Homo sapiens: one gene and its partners. The protein of the gene in region 4 interacts with the protein of the main gene of each other region in a pairwise test. Each region holds a gene or a part of one and is shown on either strand. Other genes may lie near its edges. The genes, in order: CCDC85A, MME, TNFAIP8, TMEM132D, GFM2, TPST1 and ANKRD31.

What was found.
Region 1: the proteins of TMEM132D (region 4) and CCDC85A interact in a two-hybrid assay, tested with the Homo sapiens proteins (one large-scale study listed by BioGRID).
Region 2: the proteins of TMEM132D (region 4) and MME interact in a two-hybrid assay, tested with the Homo sapiens proteins (one large-scale study listed by BioGRID).
Region 3: the proteins of TMEM132D (region 4) and TNFAIP8 interact in a two-hybrid assay, tested with the Homo sapiens proteins (one large-scale study listed by BioGRID).
Region 5: the proteins of TMEM132D (region 4) and GFM2 interact in a two-hybrid assay, tested with the Homo sapiens proteins (one large-scale study listed by BioGRID).
Region 6: the proteins of TMEM132D (region 4) and TPST1 interact in a two-hybrid assay, tested with the Homo sapiens proteins (one large-scale study listed by BioGRID).
Region 7: the proteins of TMEM132D (region 4) and ANKRD31 interact in a two-hybrid assay, tested with the Homo sapiens proteins (one large-scale study listed by BioGRID).

What each region holds. Positions count from the first base shown.
Region 1 is NC_000002.12:56,182,386-56,187,300, reverse strand, and holds the start of CCDC85A (coiled-coil domain-containing protein 85A), read right to left. Parts: upstream 3,312-4,915; 5' UTR 2,677-3,311; coding exon 2,401-2,676; intron 1,604-2,400; exon of another isoform or gene 1,531-1,603; intron 1-1,530. UniProt on the Homo sapiens protein: May play a role in cell-cell adhesion and epithelium development through its interaction with proteins of the beta-catenin family.
Region 2 is NC_000003.12:155,111,319-155,114,818, reverse strand, and holds part of MME (neprilysin), read right to left. Parts: intron 1-3,500. UniProt on the Homo sapiens protein: Thermolysin-like specificity, but is almost confined on acting on polypeptides of up to 30 amino acids. Biologically important in the destruction of opioid peptides such as Met- and Leu-enkephalins by cleavage of a Gly-Phe bond.
Region 3 is NC_000005.10:119,386,497-119,390,905, forward strand, and holds part of TNFAIP8 (tumor necrosis factor alpha-induced protein 8), read left to right. Parts: intron 1-1,247; exon of another isoform or gene 1,248-1,256; coding exon of another isoform or gene 1,257-1,296; intron 1,297-4,409. UniProt on the Homo sapiens protein: Acts as a negative mediator of apoptosis and may play a role in tumor progression.
Region 4 is NC_000012.12:129,893,650-129,898,058, reverse strand, and holds part of TMEM132D (transmembrane protein 132D precursor), read left to right. Parts: intron 1-4,409. UniProt on the Homo sapiens protein: Regulate neuronals morphology via inhibition of the WAVE regulatory complex (WCR), a complex that controls F-actin cytoskeletal dynamics.
Region 5 is NC_000005.10:74,756,804-74,761,212, forward strand, and holds part of GFM2 (ribosome-releasing factor 2, mitochondrial), read right to left. Parts: intron 4,184-4,409; coding exon 4,099-4,183; intron 2,624-4,098; coding exon 2,566-2,623; intron 2,144-2,565; coding exon 2,046-2,143; intron 1-2,045.
Region 6 is NC_000007.14:66,239,464-66,243,872, forward strand, and holds part of TPST1 (protein-tyrosine sulfotransferase 1), read left to right. Parts: intron 1-861; 5' UTR 862-962; coding exon 963-1,807; intron 1,808-4,409. UniProt on the Homo sapiens protein: Catalyzes the O-sulfation of tyrosine residues within acidic motifs of polypeptides, using 3'-phosphoadenylyl sulfate (PAPS) as cosubstrate.
Region 7 is NC_000005.10:75,067,245-75,070,694, reverse strand, and holds the end of ANKRD31 (ankyrin repeat domain-containing protein 31), read left to right. Parts: intron 1-2,030; coding exon 2,031-2,176; 3' UTR 2,177-2,398; downstream 2,399-3,450. UniProt on the Homo sapiens protein: Required for DNA double-strand breaks (DSBs) formation during meiotic recombination.

The DNA of each region.
Region 1 (4,915 bases), on a different chromosome or scaffold from region 4:
GAGGCATAAAAAAGAAAATGTATTATGGTCTTAATTCCCCTACATTTATAGTTCTCAACTGAGAATGCCAAGCCCTCAGACGCTCCCCCACGCCCTTAACAAAAAAAAATACTTCTTTTCTTCCAGTTAAGCCAAAATAAATATATGTACCCATCATTTATTCAATCAACCACATTTATGGATTACTATGGTGTCCAAGGAAGCTCTGAGCCAAAATAAAAAAGAGAAGGGAGAAGGCTGGCCTCTCCAAAGAGTAAAACCACAGCACACCCAGGGTGGGCCAGAAGCCTGGGAGTCCGCTCCTTGCAGCAGCCCAGGGATGACATGAGAAGAGTAGAAGCTGCATCAGAAAGCAACCTGCCCCCATCATTTCTGAACTTGATAAGGAAGTAGACTGGCAAGTCTTTTAATGCCAGGTCATGAATCTAGATCACAAGGAGACTTTCTTACTTGGGTGTACGGGCCTTTAGCTGACCTAATAGCTACTTCTCTACATGAAGCTACTGGAATGAAGCCCAGGCACTCTACCAACCCACTCTACCATTCCCCTCCCCTACCCACACACAGACATCACACACAGTCAATCCACATAACCTAAAGGAACTTTCAAGTGTTTCTGAGCTATTATTTTGATGCTCCATACTATTAAAACATTTAATAATAACTCTTCCAACTCTTCTAAATCACACTATTGTTCAGACCATGGAAGAAACTCAAATTAGAGGATGACAAACTAATGCCCCCTTGTCCAGCTCTGCCTAAGAAACCAAAATCTTGGGGACACACAGCCATAGATTTGTAAGTCCTTTCCTGATGACAGTAACTACCATTTTATAGTCAAGTATTAAACCTTCCCCTACATAATCATAACTTATTGCCATAACACCCTCAGAAAGTTATTATCATTGCATTGTATTGGTGAATAAAAGGAGGATCTGAGAAAGTAATTACCCAAGCTCACCCTCCTGGCAAATGAGGTTTCTAGAATTCAAACCCACCTCTGAGATCATCTTCCTACTACACTAGCCTGCCTCTATTCCCCAAAGAGACTGGCACTTAATAAACACTCTGTTAGTAATGAATTCAACCACAGGAGAGAGTAAGCCTTGGCATTTTTCTGACTGGAGGAATCTTCCTACCTGCACCCACTCTAGGGACTATATGACAATGACTTTCGGCCTCGGGAGACGGCCATCTCCACCTGAACTGGGCCCAGCACATAGGTGAGCCTTGAGCATTCCACTCTTCCCACTCTTTCTTGCCCCAGAATCCCAGAGCTGGAGCACTGAGGCAATTCCGGAACAGCATCTACTGTCTGATATGTGGGGATAGGAGTGGAAAGGGGAAAAGAACAGCTTGTGCCTTCGGGAATTTGCTCCCTGAAGTCCCTGCAGTGATTTCGTTTGTGTCTGGCTTCCTACAAACAAAGCAGAACAATGAGAGGAAGGAATACCAGGAGGCACCAGCGCTAGCTGGAAGGAGAGGAAGTTTGTGGTGCTCGCCAGCAGGGCGGTTCCCGGCCACTAGTGTACTGCAGCTGGGCAGGCACACTCCTCGCAGACCCGGCGCTCTCCAAGGAGAAAAGAAAGTTAGTGGGCTTGGGGTACGTTTCCCTTCTTTTCCTAGAAGAGGGTGGCAGGGGGGCTGGCTCAGAAAGAAACCATCACTGACCAACACTTGGGGTACTCTGTCAAAATGCTGCTCCTTCCATACTGAGTCTCTTTGCTCCTCCTCTTTCCCCCAGTCAACCTGGGGTTAAGTGGGAAGGGGAGTAAGGCAACTCCAGGGGATGCCTTCCAAACTCCGGGAGAGGGAAAGCACAGGAATTGGGAGAAGACGTGAAGGCAGAGCTTGAACTCCTATGTACCCGGTGACACAAGACTGCTCTGAGGGTGGCGCCCGCTGCTTCTCCCGGGCGCCCCGCCAGCCGCTCTCCCTGGCAGTGGCGCCCTTTCCTCGCCCTCTGCCCGCCCAAGAGCTGCTGGCCCAGAGCAGCCGCATTCCCGACCCTCCAAGGCGAAGATCCCCTGGATTCACCCCCTCACTGGCCTTTCCGCCTAACTGACTGAAACCCGGCTCCCCAGGCACAGATTTTCCAGCCTCCCTAAGAAATGAAAGGTTCGCGTGCCCTTCACCTCCCTCCCTGCTTTCCAGCGTCCTCAGCGCCTCCCCGAACAGCCAGACAGTGGAGCGCCCCGTGTTGGGGAGAGGAGGGGAGCAGACGCCTCCGAAGTTTGGAAAAGTTACACAGGGGCTGGGGACTGGGGGTAGGGGGTGCCGACCGGGAGAAGGGGAGGGTCACCTGTTGAGGGAGGGAGGGAAAGTTTGCCTGGCCCCGCCTCCTCCTCGGGGCACCCCGCTCCCAGCCGCGCCGCGCCTCCCCACCTGGCCCGCGCTCACCTTGAGGCCGCGGATCTCGCCGAGGTGCAGCTGCAGGCGGCGGTTCACCTCGCGGATGAGGTTGCTGTGGTCCAGCATCGCGCTCACCTTCTCCGCCTCGGCGCGCCGCAGGCTGCGGATCAGCTCCTCCTTGCTCCACTGCAGCAGCTCCTCGTCCGACACTTTGGACAGGTCCTCCACCGGCGCGGGCGGGGCCGCGGACGAGCCGGCCGGGGCTGGGGAACAACTTTCCGCCGCCGCCGCAGCCGCCGCCGCGCCTCCGGCCGCCTTCGACATGGTATCCGCGGGGTGGCAGGTGCAAGTGGGTGGAAGAGGCGAGGCGACTCCCGAAGGCGCGGGCGCGGCGAGGCCGCCTCCGCCCACACCCCTGTGCGCTCCGGCGAGTCAGCGGCACCGCCCAGGGGCCGCTGGGTTGGGGCGGCGGGGGTCGCGCTGGGTGGCCATCCTACCTCGCCATCCCCGCGCGCGCGCCCGCGCTCCCCCAGGGCCCGGCAGCCAGCCGCTTGCTGCTGCCGAGGCCCGTCCCAACTCCGCGCAAGTCCATGGTGAGGGGCACTGGGGAGCCCGGGGCTGCCGCGGGAAATCCTCGGGGACAGCGGGGGAGCTGCACCGCCGTTCCCCTGCCCTCTCCTCCGCCCTAAGCCGAGACTGTCGCCCCCCGCACTCTCTGCCCTGCACACAGGCGTGCACGCACACGCACTTTCCTCCCCCTTGCCCAGCTGCAGCCCCCGGCTTCTCCCCTCTCCTAGCTTGGAGGGCGCGCCGGGCACCGCGGCGCCTCCCCGGCTGCTCTAGCGACGCCGCCGCGGCTGCCCGAAGGCTGCTGCGCTCCTCCTGCCGCCTTCGCTGCGCCCGCGGCCGCTCCTAGGCTGCTCCGGAAAGCCTTCGATTTGCAGAGCGGAGTCGAGAAGGGGTGGAGGGTGGGGGACCGGCTGGAGGAGGAGCCTGGAGCTGGGGCCACCCGTAACCCGCAGCAGCTCCCGCATGGGCTGGACGCAGCTGCCACTCGACCGCTGCCCGGGCCCTCGAGGTGCGCTCCCGGCTGTCCTGCCCGGGAGGGCTGGGGGCGCGGCTCTTTCTGCGCCCGGGCGGGTGGGGCTGGAATGGGGAGAAGGTGAGGAGCTGTGGCCGCCCGGTCTTTGGGAGGCTCGCGCGCGCCACCGTGTGGCGGAAGAAGCTCCCTCCTCTGCCCTCTGCACACCGGCCTTGTCACCAGGCAGGGGAAACAGCTGCTGACCCAAATGCGAGGTGCTTCGTATTTGGAGGGATCGGGGATCAGGAAAGATGGGGTAGCAGGACCTGAGGGATAACCAGTTATTTGCACTTTGGAGAATGGGAGGAGAGGCAAATGGCAAAAACGGGGGTTGGGGAAAGGGGCAGCTTAAGAAAATCCAAATGGTCTGAAAAGGGCGAAAAGAGGCGTCAGGGCACTGCTCTTATGGGGCTACCCATCCCCACCCCCCACTCTCGCCCCACCCCTAGGCCTTTGTGTTTTCTAAAAATCCACTACTCTATGAAGAAGCTTCGGGAGAAGGTACTGGATCTTTTAAATTTTTATTTGAAAAATATCAAAGCCTTTAGGCGAAAATAAAATACCTTCATCTCCTGCTTCCTGAAACCTGGATTTTAAGGTCAGCACAGTCACCTCCCCTCGGAGCAAAGCAAGCCCCCTCAGGCAAGCTGAAATGCCAGCCAAGGAGATTTCCATTTTCTTCTATGCCGCAGGCTGCCAGGCGTTTACTGGGTCGGCTTTTTTATGATGGTTATTTCTGGAAGGAGGAAGTCTGAGTCCCTGGCTTCTATCTTTGGGCTATCCTCTTGTAAAGTTGGGTGGAATCGTCTCTGGGCTGAAAACATGCTTTTGCCTAAAGAGGTGGATGCCCTTGACCACCGCATGTTATTTCCAGTGGGGTACAGGGCCGGAAAATGGCAAGGATCTACCCCCACCGGGTTTCAGTTAACCCGGGTGCAGAGGGAATAATCTCTATCTGGTAGGATGATAATCAAAATCAGTCCCTTCACCCGCCGGTCAGTGCGTGTCCCCTATTGGGGACACTGAGACCTGGCTCCCGGGAGAGGCAAGGAAATGTGGTACTGCTTACGGTGACCAAATGGCCTTAACATTCCCCTCAGCTTAACTAAACTTTAGACAGGTTTCTTCCTAACTGTAGGCCCCAGACCTTCCTTTTCTCAGAGCATTTACTTTAGCCAACTTCCATTGGTGAATGTTTCCTCTGACCCTTTGACATGTAAATCTCTCCGCCTCTTGCTGGGTTTTACAGCCTGGGGATCTTTCTCAGGGATCTGTGAGGCATCCCTTTGAAATGTAATCATCAAGGAAAAAAGGGTCCCTATCTCCTAGTGTTTGTGGAGAGGAGGAGCCTAACTTTAATAAGTTCCAATTAGGAAACACAAATGGCCTCATTACACTGACCAACTTCCCATCCTAATCTCCTCCACTAGTCTTCTACTAGTTCCCCTCTCCCTCCCTCTCTCTCTTCCCTATTGCAATAGC
Region 2 (3,500 bases), on a different chromosome or scaffold from region 4:
TTTCCTTCACTATAGTTGGTTCGTTTTATTTTGAACTGTGTGGGTCCTTCCACCCTGGGTCCCACAGCCTTCCCACCCCACCCCTGAATAACTAAGTTTCTGGCTAGTTCCTATCTCAGAAGAACAAAGAATAGAGGTCTACTTTGAGTTGGCCATCCTGCACCTGAGGTTAGCATGCCATTCTTCACTCTGATAACTTTAGTTGCCAACTCTGCTCTTCAAAGTGCTGTGACTTTTGAAAGTCTCTGAGACTCCAAGCCATGGAAGATTGTTAATGAATTTTTATCATTTTAGAAAAGATCTGAAGACACTGTTATTACTTCCTGGACCTTGCTCAAATAAATTTTGTAATTCAAATTTGACATCCAATTTGCATTTGTTTATATAGAGTCTGTCATTATAAAACTGGCTGTAAGCTTATTAGTTTTTCTTAGGTCCACTTTTATCTTTCAGGACTATGATGAAAATGCAAATCAACCAACACTGAGTATTTACAATCAAGACGTTGACTCTGGTAGGAGCTGCAATTGATAGAAAGATGTATAAAATAGGAATTATTACCAACGAAGAGGAGAATATGGCCCAATACCCATAATGTCTATACCCGGAACAGAGAAAATTCTGCTCCTGCCCTCCCCACTTTGAGTCTCATACAAGTTGAACTGTTTTGCAATGAAAACAAAAGAGCAATTGAGAATTCATCTGTATCAAGAGAATATAAGCTCTCAGATGAGCTTTTGAAAATACTTCACTTTATGAATTAATTAATTAATTAAAAACTTCAAACAATTGCTGAGCTGTGTGGATTTTTTAAACTTGGTATGGTAAACATGGTTTCCAGCTGAGCCTCAAGCCCCCCCATTGAACCACTTTTTTGGCATGTTTGCTTGTCTGGAACCTCAGGACCCAGCTCTTTAAAACAAAACGCTCAGGACTGTTACCAAACCAGTCATCTCATGAGTTGTATGCCTTAGTATACAGCACAGTTGCTATCATAGCCTCCTGGATTTGAAACTTTGGGTAAAACTGTATTTCTATTTCCCCTTGGTTTACTGGTAATTCCTTTGCCCCTCTTCCATACCTCTCATTCTGATTGGTACCTGGTTTATATCATCATTCCTTTTTGACTAGAAGTCACCCAGTTCTTCATCTTGATATATTCTACACATCTTCCACAAACCAAACTTCCCGAAAGACTCTTTGACACTGGCCACAACCTTGCTGAAAAATGTCAGTGGCTTGACATTTCCCAGGTTAAATTATAAAAGCTTGGCAGGGCACAGTGGCTCACGCCTGTAATTCCAGCACTTTGGGAGTCCAATACCAGCCTGGCCAACATGATGAAACACCAACTCTACTAAAAATACAAAAATTAGCTGCCCATGGTGGCAGGCACCTGTAGTCCCAGCTACTCAGGAGGCTAAAGCAGGAGAATAGCTTGAACTCGGGAGGTGGAGGTTGCAGTGAACCAAGACAGCGCCACTGCACTCCAGCCTGGGTGACAGAGAGAGACTATCTCAGAAATAAAAATAAAATCTTTAGCTTGGTGTCTAAACCTTTACCAGAATAAACGTATCACCCTACCTTCCCCTTTTCCTCTTTTGGTGGTTTATGCAAACTCTGTTCCAACCAGATGGCCCTCGTCAATGTGTCACAAACACTCCTTGTGTTTTCTTAGTCCTGTGTCTTTGCTTTAACCTCCTCATCCCACAGCTTTGATTGCCCCTGTCATTCTTTCCAAATTCTACCCATCATTCAACATTCAGCTCATGTTCCATCTCTTCCCTGATGCTTCTGTGACTCCAAACTTCAAGGAATATTTCTCTTGACTCCTGAGAGCTCATTGCCTCACTCTGTCTTCAATGTGAGACTACTTTGAGTTTTTCATTGTAAATACCTACTCTGTCTACCTAACCATTTTGTTGATGTGATTAATCTCTTTGTATCACCTAGCACCTAGGTAACAGGGGTGCAATTATGGTTATGTGTGACTGAATCATCTATGAGTCTTCTTACCACCTTCTCTTACAGCCCATCACTCACCTCCTCTCCCCTTGCCACAGAGGTCAGATCCGTTCTCAGTTCATTGCCTCCAGAGTCCATTCCATCTTTCCCATTGTTTCCATTCTGTCTCAAACCCTCTTTCTCTCAGACTCTATTTGTGCCCTTTTGACAAAGTTGTGGCCCCAGGCCTCTTCTTACCTATGTCCATTCTGTACTCCACAGGCAGATTCATATTCTCAAAATACTTCAGAATGTCATTTTCCACTCCAAAGTTTTCAATACCATCCTTTTGCAATCATAATAAAATCCAGATTCCATAGCACATTCTAACACTAATAGAACGAATGAAGCTTCTCCTTTGCTACTTTCTCGCATGAGCCATCTGTCACAGTTAAATGAGTATATTCAGTTTCTGTGAGACACCTTATGGTTTTCTGCCTCTGTAACTTTGAGCATGTTACCCAGCCCCTATACGTACTAATAAATATTATTTCATATTATTTCATTTTGGAATTTCAGGCATTTTCAAAGCCCATTCCAAATACTTCTTTATGAAAGACTGGCCTGACAAAAGTCTGTATCAGCTCACAACATATTCATTTTTCGCATGCAAATTCATTATCTCCTCACCTGGACTGTGGCTCTGTGAAAATAGAAAATGCATATTCTCTCTCACAGAGCCTAACACTGTGCTCAGTCAAGACTTGCCAGTAAAAACTCCAACTTTAACACCTCAGTTAAAGACTAGGAAACTGATCTAAAAAAGGTAGAGAGAAAAAGCAATTCCCTCGAATTTTGAAGGAAATAAAAATATGGTAACGGGAAAGGTGAAAAATAAAGATCCTAAATACATAGAGGATTATTATGTAAAGTGAAAAACCAGAAAACTAGAGCCTGAAAGAAGTGCTAACTACAGACATTCTAAGAACACACTTAGCAATATATAACTCTTCTCTTTTAAGATACTTAAAAACATTTAAACTGAATGTTGTGAAGGCTATGCCATTTGGAGGGGGCACTTCTGTTTTCTTCCTCTTTCTGGGGAAATGAAAGCTTCTGTCACGACATCACAGAGCAATGAACTCTACTCAGAAAAGTAGTGAACAATTAATGAACAAGCAGAATGAACAAGCAGAGCATGAACAAGCCCTACTGCCTATTTGGAAATACCACCGGTCCTTAAACACTCTGAATAAAAAGGATGGCTGGAAGTTTCAGTTCTCTGATCATGAGTGCAAATTCTCCATCCTGTAAAAGCAACTGTACTTCCCACATCTCCCAGGGGGCAAAAAGTACAGTTAAATTACTTGCATCTGCACAACAAACCAAAGAAATAACATTCAGTTTGTGAGGGATGTGCAGAGCAGAGAGAGGAAGAGGCAACTTTGCTAACTCCTTCCAGGGCCACTCTTTAAAATTTCCCTTTGACCACCGAGCTTGTCTGAGCATGGATGCATCCAATCACTTCAAAGAGCGCTCTCTGTTCTGATGAATAT
Region 3 (4,409 bases), on a different chromosome or scaffold from region 4:
TCCCGTCAAAAGAACCCAGTGTTTTGTTTTGTTTTGTTTTGTTTTGCGGGGGAGGAGTATTTCAAAGTCACCATTTTCTCTGACATGTCTTCTTTACTATGTTGCCTTTTAAGGTTAGCATGTATTTTTCTGGAGTATAAGAAACAGAGTGAATGACTTAGCTTGCCACTGTAATGGTGCCTGTCACTGGTTCTTAACCACTTGGGGGGATGTGCATATACCCCAAAATGTGCATTCCGTATCAGGTTAAGGACTTCAGATGTATTGATTCTCCCAAGACTATGTTCTGTGTGACAGCCTCCATCTGTGTGGCATAAGGCCAATTTTGGGATTAAGGTGCCTGGCACTTGTCTTCTCTCTCTAGTTGATAAGATTGCCTCCAGCTTGCTGCCATGGTCGTTGCTTCTGACCCTTCCAGGGCAGCCCCCTTTAGAGTTCATATCTGTGCTGCTTCTACTGGGTCTCCCTCCCTCCCTCCCTCCCTCTCTTTCCTTCCTTCCTTCCTTCTCCCTCTCTCTTTCCCTCTGTTGTTTCTTCTCTATGCTGTTGAATTTCTGACTTTGGGATTTTGAGTATGAAAGCTGGTGACACTGACACATCACTAGCTACTCCGAGCGTTCATTGCTTTTCTCTGGAGCACTGCCAAATCTCCATGTAGGGAGGTCAACTCTTCGCCTGCTGACTTCTTATGACAGGGTTCGTTGTTTGTTCTGGCCACTTTCTTATCACCAAAGCTGACTTTTTACTAAGTCCCATTAGATTTAGAATTATTTAGATACAAGAGAGCTAAGGTTTTATATATTTATTTAAAGAACTTTTATTAACAGACAACAGCCAGACATGCTTTCCAAATTATTATCTTTTCTATCCTTCCTAATATTGGAAACCTGGATCGAGTTTTAACTAGGCAAGAATTTGCAATGTATGTACATCTGTTGTCATCACTGTTAAAGAGTCCCAAGTATAATAGATTTGAGGGGAAAAAATTATGTATTTACTGGTAAGACTGTAAAGAAAATGATTTGAGTACTTTATTAGAAAATTCTCAGTGGGAGTAGTTATGTTATGGGGCATTTTTGTTAATTTTCATAAAACTAAGTATTAATAACAAAGGACTTTTTTTTCCTTCTGAGCATATTTTTTCTTGAATATTTGGGTCAGTATATTTTAACCATATTTATCTCTAACTTTATAATTTTGATGCTAAAGCCAGAATTCCCTAAATATCACTTTGCCTTACAGCAAATGTTGCTGAAATGGCCAAGGGAGGAGATACAGAGACAGAGAGGGAGGGAGGTAAGATAAGTAATGTAAAATAACATTTACACCCTATTTCTAGAAAATAATCTTAAACAGTTTTAATGTGGTGGTAATGCTTTGTATTTTTTTTTAAATACAGCATTATTCTTCATTAATGAACAATTTACATGTCTGTTTCCAAACACAAGTGAATTGATCTTAAGAGGCAAAAAACTGAATGAATATTTTCAGCACTTTCTCCTTGGGGAACATCTCCTGTTTACATCTTAGTTGCTTCCCAGGACATGCCTTAGGTATCCCTCTGGCACATGTCTAAACATAGATCCAGCCAGAAGTAGAGGTGGGCCTGTGTTTAATCTCCTGCTACAGTTCAAGTCAGAACTACACCTTGCTTTTACTCTAAATATTTGCATTATTGTCCTTGGATGTTTTCCCATTATGCACAACAAATCTCTCCTCTTTAAAAGAACTGGTTGATGACAGTAAGAGAAATCATACTCTGGAGCGCACTTAGAGGGAAGAAAAACCACATGTTTAGTGAGGTAAAACAAATACCTGTTTTTCTACCTTTTAATACAACAAACAAAAACACCCACTAATGTATTTACAACTCTCGTTTTACAGGCCAACATGTTTTCATAGAAAAGTATTTGAGTATATTGTGGATGAGATAGGGGAAATTGATTGCTGCTTCTGGACCAGCCACTCTCTAGGCCTGCAAGTTGACACAGTGAACATGATACACAGAATCTTTGCTCTCAGAGTTTAAATCCTAGTAGGGAGAGGCAGACAATAAAAATGTAGGCAAATGAAGAGGATTTAAGGAACAAGGAGGTGTGATAGTTAGCAAAGAACTTACATGAAGCATCTTTTTTTTTCTTTTCTTTTCTTTTCTTTTCTGAGACAGGGCCTTGCTGTGTCGCCCAGGCTGGAGTACAGTGGCATGATTATAGCTCACTGCAGCTCTGTAGCCTTGAACTCCTGGGCTCGGGCAGTCCTCCCACCTCAGCCCCCTGAGCAAATAGGACTACATGCCCAGCTATTTTTTTTTTTTTTTGAGTTTTTTTTGTAGAGACAGGGTCTTGCTATGTTGCCCAGGCTGGTCTCAAAGTCCTGGGCTCAAGTGATCCTCCCACCTTATCCTCCTAAAGTGCTGGGATTACAGGTGTGAGCCACTGCGCCCGGCCCCATTTGCAAATTTCATTTCTTGAAACTCTGGCTGATATGTGAAAAGAGATAGAAAGGGGTTTGGACTAGGCTGCTGTCCGTGGAGATGGAGGGAAATGGATAGAATTCAGAGAAATGCAGGAGGAAGGTGGAATGGAAAGAACTTAATAATGGACTGGGTGAGGGAGAGAATGGTATGGTGGATGATCCCCAGGTCTCTGATTTGATTGAGCAAAAGGTTGGAAGGGATGCTATTAATTGAGATCATAAAGAGTGAAAGAGGAGCACTTAGTAGGGAGGCAGGAGAGAATCAAAGATCAGTTTTGCATATGGTAAATTTGAGATGCCTGCAAAATAGTCAAGGAAAGAAAAATCTTGAATGCACTTACAAAATGAGTCCAGAAAAGAGGTCAGGGCTGAGTTATGGCTATGGGAGTCATTGGCACATGGGTGGTATCTGAAGCTGTGGCAGTGGATGAGATCACACAGGGGTGAGGATAGACTGAAGGAGAAAAACTTGATCCAGGACTAGCTCTGAGATACACCAGACTTTTAAGGGATCTGGTAGAGCATGTGGAACTGACAAATGAGCCTGCACAGGAATGGCTAACAGCAGTTAATTTGCAAGAAAAAGAAACAAACTTCATGAGCACAGACCACACATCCCTGGCCAGCGACTCTCAGCCACAAGCCCCAGTTGGCTTCAAAAAAACTTTCTCTAATGCTGGAAAATAAATCTACTCATGCATGTCTTCTTGGTGGAGGGGGAGAAAGAGCTTCAGATGGTGGAGGGGAACAAGGAGCTTCAACCTCATTTAAAAAGACGACTTCACTGGAATAACCCAAAGAATAAAAGGAAAGTGTGACACAGCTGCTGTGTTTCTGGAGCGGGGTTTGAAGTTCCTCTAGGATAAATATGAAAGCCTCAGAGATCAACTTCTCTATCTTGATTCATACTTGATTACCAGTAAATGGGGAATGATCTTGCTTAGTTGGCAGTAGATTTGCCTGTTACACACTCTCTTGCAGGAAGTTGAAGTGCTGTATCATAGAGTTTTTGTTTTCCATGTTTGAAGTTAAATGGGATATTGAGATTTAATCAGAAAAGTAGCTGAGAAGAGGTGTAAACATGAAAGTCCAGTCTTGGATAAAGGAGAAATCTTATGAATACCTCTCCCTCTGGTTTCAATATTTCACAACATAAAGTATGTCCAACTGATAGACTTGTAGTAAATCCCAGGTAAGATATTTGTAGACTGTGCCATGTTCTAAAACATTAAAAAAAAACACAATAACATTTCAACTTTATATGTAATATATTACTGAAATCCTGGTTATCTGCTGAGTAGCTGAAAATGGTTGGGTATCCCTATATAAATCAAGTTTATTGATTTTTTTTGAGGTCTATATCAGGAGTTCTAAGATGAAATATGGTCCCTGGTTTTAATGTGATACTGTTAGCTACATGGATGCCATTTCTTTTGACATAAATTCTTTAGTGTGAATTAATCTTTATACTCTTTTGCAAATCATTGAAGAATAGGAATAGAAACAGATTTCTGCTTAAATGATAAAAACATAAAACATTAAATGATGGAAACTTCTCCATAAAGTTGGCTGTTTCTCACACATTTTCACTTTCCTTCTCTTTTTCAAAATATATTTTAGTTCTTCTGCAGTTTCAGTTCATGTTTCAGAAGTTTAAATTTCGACATTTGTGAGGGGACCCTTTCTTATTCAATCAAGACATTCTTTGAGTGGATGTATGGCACTGTATATTTATAAATGATGTTCAGGTCATAAGGAACCATTTTGCAGCTGCCTCTACTATATACCACGAACTACTTTGGTCCAAATTTCAAATCTAATTTGGTTCTTCTTTTCCTCAATTTTATTTAATTTTAATTTTTTCTGAGACAGGGTCTCACTTTGTTGCCCAGGCTGGAGTGCAGTAGTGCAATCACTGCTCACTGCAGCCTCAA
Region 4 (4,409 bases):
AATGGGGTAGATATGTACTGGACCAGAAGTTGAAGTTCAGAGATGTTAAGTAACTTCTCCAAGTCATAGCAACATAAAAGACAGGCAGAGTCTGAATTCTGATGCCAGAACCCATACCCCTGGCCATTCTGCTGACTTCTGATAATTATATGGAATAACTAAAAACCAGGCGGTTTGTCAGGCAGAATTGTTACATGGTGCCAGGCTTGCCAGGGGCTGAGTGCAGAGAGGTCTTGAGACCATTTTAGTTTTTAGCTCAGAGCCTGGTATACAGATGACCCTTGATATTTGTTGAGCAAATGAATAAATGAACATCATGTTATTTAGTTTTCTCAGCATTATTTTTTCCAGCAGCAATCAGAAATAACACCTGAAAGGGATTAAAATGGGGATTTACTTCCAAGACCACCAGGGAGGTAGAAGAGATTCTCTGATGGTGTGGAATGGTTTGGTTATCTCCTAGGTCAGCTTCTTTTTTGTTTTTTTTATTTTTATTTTCCTCCTCCCCCACCTCCCTAGGTCAAGCTTCTTAAAGAACTTGCAGACATGCCCAGTGGACTGTCTTCAGGACCTGTTTATTCATCTATGTCCCTAACATGTGTAGGGTCCTGGGCAGGGAAGACTAAGACATGGCCTCTGGTCTTCCAGGACCAAAAGTGTAGGTGACACATCAGTGGTCTCTGGGAAATTATAAAGAATGAGGAAGAAGCATGCGGAATGAAGACACAGACTCTTCCTGTTTGCAGAAGAAGGATGCTTGATGCTGTGAACATATGCGTTGTTGATTTTGATGTTTGACGCCAGACAGCACACTTGAATGAATTGTGGAGATGATATGGTGCGGCCTCTCACAAAACGAAGAGGAAACCAGCATGGATTTGTTGTGACATGGGACCAAAGACTCGGAATATTTTTAGATGACTTTGTCATTTATTTAAAAGAAAAATCTGCTGTAGGAAGAATTAAGGGGTACATACCACAGTCAGAGGCTAGGTGCTTCCGTCACCTCTGTCCTTAAACATTGGTTTCAGGAGTCACCCAAGGTGCACCCCCTCCATAAATTAAGAATTGATGGAGAAGGAAGGCCCTTGACCTTGAAAGTAAACAAACCTGTGGCATGCATCTGAAAAGCGACTGAAGTACATAGTTTTAGAACAGATCAGTCAACAGTTATAAAGGTAAAAAACATGCCTTTGAAAGAGAATTCAAATAGCCACTTCTCCTCCCTTAAGAAGTAAGTAAAGTATATAAAGTAAGTAAAGTATATAAATAAAGGGAAATTCAGATGTACATTTGGAAAGACAAGAGGTTCCACTCTTAGGAAGTAAGTAAAGTATATAAATAAAGGGAGATTCAGATGTACATTTGGAAAGACAAGAGGTTCCAAAAAAGTGTTTAACTTTTAGTGACATTAAGTTATTCTTTTCACGAGAGTGACATTAAATGTTTATGTTTATGGGAATCTCCCTCTGCAGATTCACTAAGAAGATGTCTGTCAGATTTCATTGTTGTTATTTGTTTGTTTGCATTTTGGTCAGGAAAGCTATACTGGTAGATGGGAAGACGCTTCAGTGATAAAATAGCCTGCCGAGACTCAAAGAGTGTTTGGCAGGATATTGTGGCAATAAAGTATTTTGATATCAAAACAGATGGCGACATTGCCCTGCCTGCTCTCATTCCCTGCTGCCCTGGCCTCTCCTTTCTCGTGCAGATGAACACCTGGCAGCCACTGCCTCTTGGAACAGCAGAAGGCACGAGACAGGAAAGTCAAGGCCAAGCATGATGGCTCATGTCTGTAATCCCAGCTCTTTGGGGGGCCCAGGTGGGAGGATCACTTGAGGAGTCCAGGAGTTCAAGACCAGCCTGGGCAACAAAGCAAGACTCCATCTCTACAAAAACAAAACAAAACAAAACAAAAAAAATGAGCCAGGTGCAGTGGTGTGTGCCTGTTGTCCCAGCTACTCTGGAGGCTAAGGTGGGAGGATTGCTGGAACCTGGATGGTGGAGGTTGCAGTGAGCTGTGATCATGTAATACACTCTAACCTGAGTGACAGAGTGAGACCCTGTCTCCAAACAAAAAAAAAAAAAAAAAAAAGAGAGACAGAGAAATCAAATTCCTGACTTTTGATTTCAAAAGCTGGTATCCAGCAATAGAGAAAAGATTTGGAAGAACCTATCTTCCCAGGCATATGGTTTCTCAGCCTTTCTCTTCTTCCTTCACCAAGTAATTTTTTTTTTTTACTAGGGGAAAGGGCAGGAGAATTTGGAGGGCAGCTTAGATGCTGGTGGGCTTTTCAGCTGCTCTGTGCCACGTCACTCCAATGACAAATTAAAAATATTCTAGATTGACTTCGTGAATATATTGGGAGAGCCACAAATGAAGACACTCTGTCCTAAATAGCCTGGAGATGAAGCAGAAGGAATGTTCGTATGAGGTGACCAGGCAGCATGCCCGAGCATGGCTCAAATAGCAGAATCTTTTCCTGGCAGCCAGGGCTGTGCAGGCATGGCTGAGGAAGCCCAATTGGCCCGAGGAGGCCTTGTGGTCAAGACCAGGGAGGCACAAACCATAGTCTGTGTGGACTGACCACAGGAGACAAGATATCATTTGTACCAATCACAAAGCCCTCCTGGTTGTTGTGGTCACTCCGAACCTCTCAAAACTTAGAAGTGATCCCTGAAATCATTGGGTGGGGTGGGAGTGTGGCAGTATCTACAGAGCTTTGTTTTGCTACTGGATAGAATGTGGAGTAAAGATAGAGATTTCAGTAACGTTACAAACAAATGAAGAGGTCTGTATTCGGTGCTTACTGATGCTGGGCACTGGGATTAGCGCTCACCCCAGCACTGTTGTCCACACAACGGTGACGTGTACCTGGGGGGTGCTATGCTTTGGTGGATTCCCAGCAGCTCAGATGGTAGCAGATGGTGTGGTATGAACCTTGAGCACGTTCCAAGGAGACCCCAGGACTCTGTCCCCAGCCCTGCCCAGGTGAACATTTGTATCAGAGGTGGCTGTCCAAACAGATGAGCTCCTTCGCGCAAACCTCAGAAGAGCAGCTACACAGAAGGGGTGGAGTGGTAAGGCCTTTGCGTGGCAGAGTTGTGACCAAAAGCTCACCTGAGATGAGGACAATCTAACATGTGAGACAAAGGGGATATTGCAACATGCTGAACGTAGATCACACACGCTGACTTGGGAGGTACGAGAGAGGAGTTTGAGAGGAACACGTGTAAAAAGACTTGGAGATTCGTATGAAAATAAGCTTAATAAGAGTTGACAGTCATGAAACTGCCAGAGGAAAAAAAAAAGAGAAACTACAAGAAACCAACAAGGAAGGTGCGAGCTCTGTGGGGTGTCTTGTCAATGTGTCTTATGGAAGCGGAGGCCTGGAAGGCCAGGAGCACTCATGAATAATCATAGTTTTATCATTATGGATGTGGAATATCCTCATGCTTTATCCTGACTCCACACCATCAGGACTCTGTTACATGAAGCTTCGAATTATCTTAAGAGACTTAGGAGTCCAGAGTTGTGCTGATTTTAGATGAGGCTGACCCGGGGTCTTTAAGGATCCCACCAGAACCTGCTTCATCTCTCTCTACCTTTCAGACCCTCTTTGTTTCTGCTCTACTGGTGGATAGGCCTTGATATCCCCTTGGCTGAGTCCCCTCCCAAATCTCACCTTGAATTGTAATAATCCCCACATGTCAAGGGTGGGACCAGGTGGAGATAATTGAATCATGGGGGGCGGTGTCCCCCATACACTCTCATGGAGTGAATAAGTCTCACAGGATCTAATGGTTTTATAAATGGGAGTTGTCCTCCACACGCTCTCTTGCCTGCCACCATGCAGGCTGTGCCTTTGCTTCTCCTTTGCCTTTTGCCATGATTGTGAGGCTTCCCAGCCATGTGGAACTATCAGTCCATTAAACCTCTTTCCTTTATAAATTACCCAGTCTTGGATGTGTCTCTTTTGGCAGCATGAGAACAGAATAATACAGGCCTGGACAGTGTGATGGACAAATGACTTCACGCCCAGCCTCATCTGATGCTGGTGGGGATCAGAGAAGGCTTCTTTCCCATTTCTGTGGACAAGCCTCGGGATAAGCTCTGTAGGGCGTGAAAATCATGCTCCCCTTCGATCCATCCACTGAGGGATGGGAAGGTGTGGAGCAAGGGTCAAGTGCCCCATGGCAGGAGGGCTGGACCCAAGGCAGGACCAGGTGTGGTTTCCAGATGTGTGAGTGAAGGCTGAACAGAAAATAGGGCTGCTGTCTTGCTGGCTCAGTTCACACAATTATAATTTATAGGACAAATAAAGTATTTTCACCATATTGCATTGGCAATGGATGGATGATATCAAATCCAGAGAATTGTGCTACATTGGTCTCCTTCTGCTGAAGGG
Region 5 (4,409 bases), on a different chromosome or scaffold from region 4:
GTGTAGTAACTCAGGAATGGAAAACTGACATCATTTGTTCTCACTCATAAGTGGGATCTAAGCTATGAGGATGCAAAGGCATTAGAGTGATACAATGAACTTTGGGGACTCAGGAGAAAGGGCAGGAGGGGAGTGAGGGATAAAAGACTACACATTGGGTACAGTGTACACTACTTGGGTAATGGGTGCACCAAAATCTCAGAAACCACCCCTAAAGAACTTATGTAACCAACCACCTGTTCTCCAAAAGCCTATTGAAATAAAAAATAAAATAAAATAAGCCTTAGGGGAGAAAACTGTTAACCTAGTTGCTTTTTAGAATATAAAGTCTAAGATTATCTTTAATTATAAATATAATAAACCAGTTATGATAAAGACATAAAATTAAGGGCAATCACAGAGCAAATGTGTGTGTATATAAAAGAGAGAGAGAACATTCTATGTGGGTTCTATTTTTATATATTCAGTTTCTTGGCATCATAAGATTGTGTACATGTCTAGTTTACCTTACTATGAGAGCAAGATCTTGATATTCTCTTTTTTAACTGTAAATAAGTTATTGCCATGACTTTTGTAGGTGATTTTTCAGCTTAGTGACTATAATTACTGTAAAGCTTGATTTCCTTCTTGTTATAATAAACTGCATTAGTTTGAAATAAATAAATAAAAACACATGGAATATTATTCAGCCTTATAAAAGGAATCTTCACTTGAGCCCAGTTTGAGACCAGCCTGAGCAACACACTGAGGCCCTGTCTCTACCAAAAATACAAAAGTTAGCCAAGTGTGGTGGCACCTGCCTGTAGTCCCAGCTACTCAGGAAGCTGAGGCAGGAGGATCTCTTGTGCCCAAGAGTTCAAGGCTGCAGTGAGCTGTGACTGGGCCACTGCACTCCAGCCTGGGCAACAGAGCAAGAGCCTATGTCTCTAAAAAAAAAAAAAAAAAAAAAAAAAATTAAAAAATTAAAAAGGAATCTTGACACATGCTACAACATGGATGAACCTTGAGGACACTGTACTATGTGAAATAAACCAGTCATAGAAAGACAAATACTTACGATTCCATTTATATGAGGTACCTAGAGTAGTCAAAGTCATGAAGAAAAAGTAGAAGGATGGTTGCAAGGGACCGGGGAAAGGGGAAAATGGGAGTTGTTTAATGGGTATAGAATTTCAATTTTGAAAGATGAAAATGTTTTGAAGATTGGTTGCACAATAATGTGAATATACTTAACACTACCAAAATAGTTAACACTTAGAAATAGTTAAGATGGTAAATTTTATGTTTTTTTAACTACAATTTAAAAGACAAAAGATAACTTGGTTAAGGATTAACAAAATCCTCTTTGATGTGAGAATTTAACTTCTGGTTACTTTTTTTGGTTCTTTTCTTCTAGAAACCAGATAACAGAGGTATGTCAACTACATTCCTAGGCAATATAACTTATGGAAAAAACAACTTCTGATTGGTAAACTAAATCTGAATTGCGAAGAACTATAAATGAATTATATATATAAGTACCTTATGGAGATACCGAACTCTGGGCTTCCCTGTGTATGGCATGTACCTTAGGTGACACCTGGAAGCTATGCCTATGAAGTTATAACAAGAGACATTCATTCCTATGGGGCATGAATCTTCTAAGCTAGGGTGGCTCCTATGAATCTTGTCACCTTGCATCTAATCCATTACTCTGGAGCAGCCAAAGAAGATAGCTCCCAGATAGCTACGGGGACTGCTATAAGGACTCTACTAGAAAGAAACACCTAATGCTGGTCTGTTGGTAAGCTGTGGTTCCTGTCCTGTAGCATTCTGAGTAGACGAGTGTCCAGTGGGGCCTATGATAGTCTTACAAGTCTGAATATTTAGTTGAATCTAAGAAGACCCTTTGGTGGGTATTGCAACTATCTTATCTTTAAATTGTGGATTAGACATCAGTAGCTCTATGCCATATTCAAGGTGTGTAAGTTGACTTGTTAACCAAAATATTTTCCAATGATGCTTTTGCTAATGGGGGGGTGGGAAGAGGAGGAATCCATTCTAACCTCCCAGTGATCTTGTATATCCGGAATAGTACAATATTCTTTCTGTGGTGGTAGTTTTGCCTGCATCAATATGAGCCATAATTCCAATATTACGGATTCTGTTTAAAAGGAAAAAATAAGGTAAACTTTACTAAAATTGTAAAACCAAAGTATATATGCTATCCAAATTTCAAAGCTGGTATTTCTATAATTTATAAAACTGTGTAAAAACTAGAAAAATGGAAAACATTTAGAGTATATCCACATTACTCTGATAAGATAGCTAAGTAACAAAAGGGCTAACTACAACCTACAATTTTGAGACTATCTTATATTCATTCTAGAAAAGTGTGCTGTTGTTACATTAAAAATTTTTAGCATTAATTGAGAAAAAATAGCTAAGATACATTATCAACATCTACTTAAAATTGGCTAGGGCAGAAAGTCATAGAAATTACAGCATTCACTCTTGTCCATCAGAAAAAACCTGTAAATTTTCGTGACAGTCTATGGAAAAGCATGATATAATGATAGTACTTACTTAGCTATGGGAGGATTGATGATGGAATGAAGGGATTTGATATCATTTCCTATTAAGCCTAATGAAAAGAAAGTTAAAATTGAACTGTTACATTTATGAAATTTTCCTTTAATTTATAAATGAAAGACTTTAAAATAACTTTAAGCAAATACTGTAAGTCCAAATAAAGTAAAATTCAAGCTAAATAAATCTAAAATAAACTAAAATTTATTTCCTTGCAATGTATAAGGAAAGCTATGGATGACAATAAAACAAGGTAAAAGTTTTAAACATCAAGTTCTAGATCATATCCTCAGAAAAATACAGATTCACCCCAATCTCTGCCACCTACTTCACTTCCATTTACAAAATTGTAGAACTAGAATAAATGCTCATAATAATAATCTTAAGGCAATGATCCTGAATCAAAGAAAAAATTTTAAATGCACAGTCCTATAAACCTGCCTTTTCCAGGGTTTGAAGAGCTAAGAGTGATCCTCATGTCAGCTGATAATGAATTATTATACAATTTGGAACTTGCCTTCCTCAGCAATCCCAGGACACAATACCTTTAAAGACTGCCTGGGAGGTTTCACTGAATAGAAGCTATAACAATTTAATACTTTTGAAAGGCCAAGCAGTATTTCTTAAATAAAAAAGTCCATATGGCTTATTCTATGCTTAATATATAGTTTACTAATATTAAGAAGTAATTTCTAAAGAAACAAGGCAGTTACATTTGTAAATTTAATTAAAGCCTTCCTGTTATTTAAACCATTTCTCCCATGTTTCTATAATACAAAAAGGAGAATTTTATATTATTTTTGAAACTTCATGGTGGTTTGAAGATCAAAAGATAATCTATACTACTACAGTTAAATTCATATTAGCCAAATTCAGAGACCTAGATACACACCAATAACGTAGCCCATTAAATTAATCTGCCCTTGTAAGTCAACAGCCAATCAGTATTTTTATTCTATTATTCTCACATGACAAACACAGTAATGAGAACAGCAACAGAATTAAACTAGTTTCATAGAGTCTACCATACACTTGCTTGTTTCAAACACAGAAAGGACATTCAAAAGTAAGTCAACTCCTCCACCTTCCAGCTTCTGATGCCATGTATCTAACCTAAACAATCCCAAATACTTAGCCAAACTACTTATAACAATCCTCAAAATAAATTATTCTAGTAAATCTCTCTTGACAGAAAACACTTGCATAAAAAACAGAAATAAACTAGAAAAAGAAATTCACAAGAGCACTCTACAATTACACTCACATGTTAAACTTGCAAACTAGCTACTAAAGCCACCAACCTTTCCTTTGCTCAGTTCATCAGCGTGTTCCTCAGATAAGGAGCACAACTCTACTAGTATTTCCTTCTGGCACCTATCTGAACACTCCCGCCCCTAATAATCTCAAGGAAATAGCCAAGAAGTAAAAAATGGTTACAGAGCCCTAATAAGGGAGATTCTTGCAAACAAGAGAGAGAAAAGAGATAAAGCAAACAGCTTAGATAAAATTAGAAGACTCTAACATTTGTACCTGGTAGAGAACTGCAATTTCTTCCAAGCGGCACATGTGGCTTTAATCTTTTTAAACTTGCTCTTATTTTATAGCAGCATATATTCTAGTAAAGAGAAAAAGAAACTTGGCATTAATTTTATTTTAGCATCACTTATTACAGTGTTAATATTGTAATTACGCTTTGTCAGAAGATAAAATATTTTGTATAGCTTTAAAGTAGTCCTAATTTATTAACTCCAATTCTTTTAAAAAGTGACAATCCAAATATATCCTAGGGGAAAGAATAAGGATAAAATTAATACTGATTTGCTATTTTGAGCTGACCTTAA
Region 6 (4,409 bases), on a different chromosome or scaffold from region 4:
TTTTCCTTTTCAAAGTTGGTCCTCAGTCGAGCCTATCTGGTCTGTAGTACCTAAATAAATTGTGGGATAATAAACTGAATCTCTGTTAAAGATTTGGAAGTTGTTTCATATTTCTTCTATAATTTCTCATTGTTAGAATGTGGAGATAATGACTGCTTGGAGGTAAAGCAAGTCTGAATAGCAGAGATCAGCCTTGGGTTGGACTCCAGACATTCTTGGGCTTATTAAATATTTGGTTGACTCACTGATAGAAATAGTTTTATTTATTTTCCATTCTTTACCAGGTACATAGCTTCAAAATTACTTCATTAACAAAAGCTGTTTCTGATTATAAACATTGATTTATTTTTACTCAAATTTGTATATACTGTATATACTGAGTAAAACAAATTTTACTCATTTGTTTTTGTTTTGTTTTGTTTTGTTTTGTTTTTTTGAGACAGAGTCTTGCTTTGTTGCCTAGGCTGGAGTGCAGTGGCATGATCTCAGCTCACTGCAAGCTCTGCCTCCTGGATTCATGCCATTCTCCTGCCTCAGCCTCCCGAGTAGCTGGGACTACAGGCACCCGCCACCATGCCCAGCTAATTTTTTTTGTATTTTTTTTTAGTAGAGATGGGGTTTCACCGTGTTGGCCGGGATGGTCTCCATCTCCTGACCTCGTGATCCGCCCGCCTCGGCCTCCCAAAGTGCTGGGATTACAGGTGTGAGCCACCGCGCCCGGTCTCAATTTTGTTTTAAGAATATCAAAGAATCCAAGACTGTTTCAGCTTCTTTCTACCTAAAATGCAGTGGTGATAACTGGTGACTGATTTGTAAGCAATCTCAATGTAATGATAAATAACCTTTTCCTTTCTCTACTAGATGTTGGTTATCTTTCTGAAGTAGACTGTCCATGGCCTGAACATTTTCCGAAAATCATTTTGAGCAAAATATCTGTTTAATAACAAGATAACCACATCAAGATGGTTGGAAAGCTGAAGCAGAACTTACTATTGGCATGTCTGGTGATTAGTTCTGTGACTGTGTTTTACCTGGGCCAGCATGCCATGGAATGCCATCACCGGATAGAGGAACGTAGCCAGCCAGTCAAATTGGAGAGCACAAGGACCACTGTGAGAACTGGCCTGGACCTCAAAGCCAACAAAACCTTTGCCTATCACAAAGATATGCCTTTAATATTTATTGGAGGTGTGCCTCGGAGTGGAACCACACTCATGAGGGCCATGCTGGACGCACATCCTGACATTCGCTGTGGAGAGGAAACCAGGGTCATTCCCCGAATCCTGGCCCTGAAGCAGATGTGGTCACGGTCAAGTAAAGAGAAGATCCGCCTGGATGAGGCTGGTGTTACTGATGAAGTGCTGGATTCTGCCATGCAAGCCTTCTTACTAGAAATTATCGTTAAGCATGGGGAGCCAGCCCCTTATTTATGTAATAAAGATCCTTTTGCCCTGAAATCTTTAACTTACCTTTCTAGGTTATTCCCCAATGCCAAATTTCTCCTGATGGTCCGAGATGGCCGGGCATCAGTACATTCAATGATTTCTCGAAAAGTTACTATAGCTGGATTTGATCTGAACAGCTATAGGGACTGTTTGACAAAGTGGAATCGTGCTATAGAGACCATGTATAACCAGTGTATGGAGGTTGGTTATAAAAAGTGCATGTTGGTTCACTATGAACAACTTGTCTTACATCCTGAACGGTGGATGAGAACACTCTTAAAGTTCCTCCAGATTCCATGGAACCACTCAGTATTGCACCATGAAGAGATGATTGGGAAAGCTGGGGGAGTGTCTCTGTCAAAGTGAGTAGAAGATACGTTTTTTATTTTGACTCTATATTTAGCTAATAATGATCTATACATATGTATGTATGTGTTTTATGTATATATGTGTGTATGTTCCTGTGTGTATATATAGAAACTGAAGACCTTTTCTGGAACAGATACAGCTTCATTGATGAGGTTTCTTTTTTTATTAATTCTCTACTAGTTTATTACAGATGTTCACTTATTTATACTTCATTTTTTCATTTATATATCGTGGCCCTCTTTATTTGTTTGATGGATACAAACCCACCTTACAGGCGGTGAAAAGCCTTCTTCAGGGTCTCAGACCTTAATGCCAATCATTCAGTTTTAGTGGCTTCTGATTTCTAATTTCTAGATATTGTTGTTAATGAGGATAGTTGGCTTTTGTGTGGATTAAGGTTAAAATCAGGAAGTGCATATATCATGTTAATGAGCACATAGTGAATTATAAGCATTTTGAAATTTTTAGTGGTAGAGAAAAATAAAAGCTTCGTCTAACCTAATCTCTTCATTTTATGGACAAGAAGACTGAGTCACAGTAAGATTAAAACGATTTGTTCAGATTTAGATGGCAAGGCCAGAATTCGAATCTGTGCCTTGGTCTCAATGAGGTCGTGCTTTTCTCCGTGGCATTTTACTACGTGTTGTGCTTCCTTTGTCATCTGAAGGATATAACCTCTCTTATTTTTTACAAAAGGCTAGAGAATCTCCAAAATTTGGAAGCCTAATCCATACAAGAAGTTCCTTGGATTCAAAACTTCTCAAATGATGATTTTTAGCATTTTGCTTCTTTTCTTATGAAGTGACAACTAGTATACCCTCTAACCTGTCTTGATGACTTATATACCTGGAATGAGGATATAAAAATGGAAACTACTATTAAATTCAGGTAGCATCTCTTCATGAAGAAGAGTTGGCTATAACTAAATTTTATTTTTGTTTTTTTTCTTTTATCAAAGTAATATATAACACCTGTAAAAAAGAAATATATAAGGTGTTATATATACATATATAAAAAGAAATATAAAAGGTGTTATATATACTTTTTATCAAAGTAATATATAACACCTGTAAAAAATACTTTCCTTGTGTGCCCTTCTTACTTTCACCAAGGAATATCTGCTTAATTTTTTTTTGCTGTATAGAACTTGTATAGTAAATAGATTTCTTATGTAGATAATCTCAAAGGAACAGCTGCCTGCCTGTACCAAGCTTTCAATTATTGATTATAAGTTATGACATACCATCATTGTAGTGGCTCTAGGTTGTTTTTATTGATTCAAAGAAAATTTCAGCTCTGGCTACTCTGATTGCAGTTTATTATTATTTCCAGATAATAGACTATAATTGATTTTTAATCACCTGTATTAGGTATTTCAGTCTTTGTGCTTGTATGTTGGCCCGGCACCGATGCCACCTACATCTGCTAATATAAAAGGAGGCCATTAGACCACCAGCCTCTTCAGTAGGGATTAAAGAGATATGCTTAAGTTAAATTTTGGTGCTAATCAGGAAGAGAACATTTTGTGTATATACTTGCTATGTTTAAGGTAAACATAAAGGCCAAGAAAATTCATAGAAATTATATTATGAATTAATGAATTTTAGAAAGTAAAGAGATGTTACTTAGCATTTCAGTATGTGGAATGGAGGCCCTGTAAGGCTCTATGTTTTTTCAAAAATTAACATGTCACAATCATGAGTAGAACCTACCATGCTTATTCCAAGATTTTTGCATTTGGGGTCTTTCTAGTTTGGGGCTATTATGGATCAAAGTTGCTAAGAACGTTCTTGTACATTACTTTTGGTGGATATAGCATTCATTTCTTTTAGGTATATACCAATGAATAGAATTGCTGGATGACAAGGGGTGTGTGTGTGTGTGTGTGTGTTTGTGTGTGTGTGTGTGTGTTTAACAGATACTTTCTAACAGTTTTCCAAAGTGTCTCTATCATTCATGTATGGCTGTACTGTAAATGAACATGTTCTAGTTGCCTCACATCTTTACCAACACTTGGTATTTTAGTCTTTTCTGGTAGGCTACAATTGTTTTTTAAAACTTAAAAGCAAAATAATATTTGAACCCCTTTTTGAAAGAAAATCTTACCCAGAATTCCAATATAAAACAAGAGCTGCTTTGGTTGAGGTGAGTCTAAACTAGACCATATTTCCTTCTTTTGTTTTTGAGATGGAGTCTCTCTGTGTCATCCAGGCTGGAGTGCAGTGGCATGATCTCTGCTCACTGCAACCTCCATCTCCCAGGCTCAGGTGATCCTCCCATCTCAGCCTCCCGAGTAGCTGGGATTACAGGCACGCATCACCATGCCCAGCTAATTTTTTTTTTTTTTTTTTGTATTTTTGGTAGAGCCCCATGTTGGCCAGACTGGTCTCAAACTCCTGAGTTCAGGCAATCCATGTACCTCAGCCTCCCAGAGTACTGGGGTTACAGGTGTGAGCCACTATGCCTGGCCAGCCATACTTCTTTTTTAAAGATTGAATCCCTACTCTCAAAAACTGCTTTTTGGGGAATAAGGCAGAAAATACAAAATTATTACATAGTGCCAAGTTGTAAATATCCCATGTTCATTATAATAAA
Region 7 (3,450 bases), on a different chromosome or scaffold from region 4:
CAAATTTTTCTACCATCAGAATGGCAAAACTTAAAAAGACTGATAATATTCAGTATTGGCAAAGATGTGGAAGAAAAGAACAGGTACTGTCACACATAGTCTCATAATACTGTTGGTGGTAGTATAAAAGGATGCACTTGGGAGGGCACTCTGGCAGAACCTCTTAAAATGTAAAATGTTTACAGACCCCTCAACTCAGTAATTCTGCTTCTGAGTATCAATCCTATAGAAGTATTGGCACATGCCTGAATAGTGAAAAGTGAGGAATAAATTATGAATTATAAACAAATTATGGTAGATGCATTAAGTTTTTCAAATCATAACTAAAGTGGGGGATAGTATCTTATAGAGGAAAAGACCAGTGTTAAATAATAGTGTTTAAATGATGAAACTAGGCTAATTTTGATGAAAAGAATTTAAATTAATATGTAAAGATTTATTTCTATGGGTTTTTCCTAAGAAAAAAATATTCCTTAACTTTTATGAGATACCTTGTTTCCGGAAGTCTATAAAACAAAGCTCCTAATAAAGGAGTTACTATGTTTACATATGGACCATGTGTAAAAAAGTTTAAATTCTTTGGATTATAAGTGATGATTTAAAACCCACATCAGACCGGCCTCAACCCCTCAAAAAGGAATTTTATTGACTCATTTACATGAAAGACCAGGAACAGATCTTCAGGTTTCATTCAGGGTTCAAAGAGCATGACAGAGCACCAGTTTCTCTTGCTTTCCATTTCTCAGCTCCATTTCCTCATTTTGGCGCCATCCTAATAGCCTTTCTTCTCATCATCCCAGGGCTACATGCTTCCAGGTTCAAGTCTAAAAAAGAAGACTCTGTATGTGACTCTTTGCCAAAATACCCAATAAAAATCTCATTGCACTTTGGGAGGCTGAGGCGGGTGGATCACCTGAGGTCAGGAGTTGGAGACCAGCCTGACCAACATGGCGAAACCCCATCTCTACTAAAGATACAAAAATTAGCTGGGTGTGGTGGTAGGCACCTATAATCCCAGCTACTTGGGAGGCTGAGGCAGGAGAATCACTTGAACCTCGGAGGCAGAGGTTGCACTGAGCCAAGGTCATGCTATTGCACTCCAGCCTGTGCAACAGAGTGAGACTCCATCTCAAAAAAAAAACCAAAAAACAAAAACAAAAACAAAAAACTCATTACATGTCACTTCTCTCTGAATGGGATATGTTCTGACCCCTGAATCTATACCTGTTCACTCATTGGTGTAGATCTAAGCAAATCAGGAGGTTGAAAACAACTCTACCAGAAGCATGTGGGCCAAGCATGAAGAAAGGGTTGGCCATACAGAGGTGACACTCATATTGTTGCTATCTGTGGAATAAGATTCAACTTGCTGAATGATGTACAGCTCATATAGCCAATCTCAGAGAAGAAAAAAAAAAATCTCTCAGACTGTCAGGGAGCTTGAAGAAACCAGTTTTAGGACCATTAGCCCCATAGACTGGCAGAGCCAAAAGGAACCCTCTTTATCATCACTCCTCTCACATCTCAGAGATGGAAGTCTGGAAAAGCCATATGACTTGCTTGAGATCACACACCAAGTTTGTGGCAGAGGCAGGACTAGAAATCATGCAGCCTAATACTCTTTTTAGTACTAAATAATAATAGCGTCTAGTATTTATTGTTTGCTATATGCCCGGCGGTATGCTAAGAATTTCACATGCAAAATCTCAGTTAATACAACTGTTTTATTCTCCGTTTATTGGAAATTGAGGCAGAGAGGAGCTTGTACCACTACCTTCAGAAGCTTCCACCATCCTTTTTCTGCTGATGTTTTAGACTTCAAACAGGCCCCTCTTTCCCAAGATCAACCAATGCTGGTTCATAGCTTTGTCTTGAGTACAGAAAATAGGTTGAGGGAAAAGGTCCTGATCAGAAAACCTGTTATGTGTGCTCTCAAATAGACTTGATTGGATTCTAGGATTTGTAATAGCAAAATTTACATCTTAAATTTCAGAGGGCAGTTTTTAATTTGTTGATACTTCTTTAAACAGGAACTTCCAGAGAGTCAATGCAAAGCAGCCCACGTTATCTACAAATAAATGAAATACTATTAATCAGTGATCAAGAATTTCTCCCATGCCACATAATGGATCAGCATTGGAAGTTTTGTGTGGAATGTGAGGAACTAACACCCTAAAACCTTGGTTTCTTAATATTTTATTGGATATTTGTTCAAATTACCAACAAACATTTATATTTCATCTTGTATAATCTGGTGGGCCTATTTTAACATACACTTTATGAGTTGCTATTTAGGATGTATGTTTACTGTTCTTAAGATGTATGTAACTGTTCAACAATTATATAAGATTAATGCTTTTTTGCCATTGAAATAAAGGCACATTTGAACTAGACCATATTGATTGGCTCTCTGGCTTTCTTTTTACTAATATAAACTTAAAACTAACTTTTCAATCAACACCTCTACCTTTGTATAAAAAACAATTGATCCCTAAGGAAATGAGGATACAAGTAAGTGTAATCCATGGATAATTGGTCCTAAAAAGGCCCAGGTTAAACAAATCCCTTAAGAACTTAAAGTCCTAATACCTTTCACATTTCCTTTGAAGTTTTTCTCAAAATCAAAATGTAAAATTATGAAGGAGGTTTAAGTTTCATAAAATTTAGTGTAGATAGGATTGTAGCTGTGGTAAGTCTTGGAACAAAGAATGAATCAAGTGTTGATTTGGAGTCTGATCATTTAAAATAGAACATCCTTCACCTTTGACTTTTGCTACATTATCACGAAGACTTTTTTTAAAAAAAAGAGATATATTTAAGAGATTTTTCAGTTTTCTCAAGGGTCTCTCTTAATCCTTTGATAGCCAAGTTACTCTTTCCTTGTCCTTCATTACCCCAGGTTCCCAAATAAGCTTTTGGCTCCATGGCCTTATTTATCCCTTCTATTTCTTTTGAGTATAGAAGTCAAAATTGCAATAAACATAACAGGCATACCTCAGAGATACTGCAGGTTTACTTCCAGACTACTGCAGTAAAGCGAATGTCAACTAAAGGGAGTCACGTGATTTTTTTTCCCCCAGTTTCTATAAAAGTTATGTTTACACTATACTGTAGTCTATTAAGTGTGTAAAGGCATATCTTAATCAATGTATGTACCTTAATTTAAGAATATTACTAAAAAATATGAGCATCTGAGCCTTCCGCAGGTTGTAATCTTTTTGGTGGTAGAGGGTCTTGCCTTGATGTTGATGGCTGCTGCCCAATCATGGTGGTGGTTGCTGAAGGTTGAGGTAGCTGTGGCAATTTCTTAAAATAAGACAACAATGAAATTTGCCACATCAATAGTCTCTTTCTCTCATGAAAGATTTATGTGTAGCATGCATTGCTTTTCAATAGCATTTTACCCACAGTAAAACTTCTTTGAAAATCGGAGTCAATCCTCTTACACCC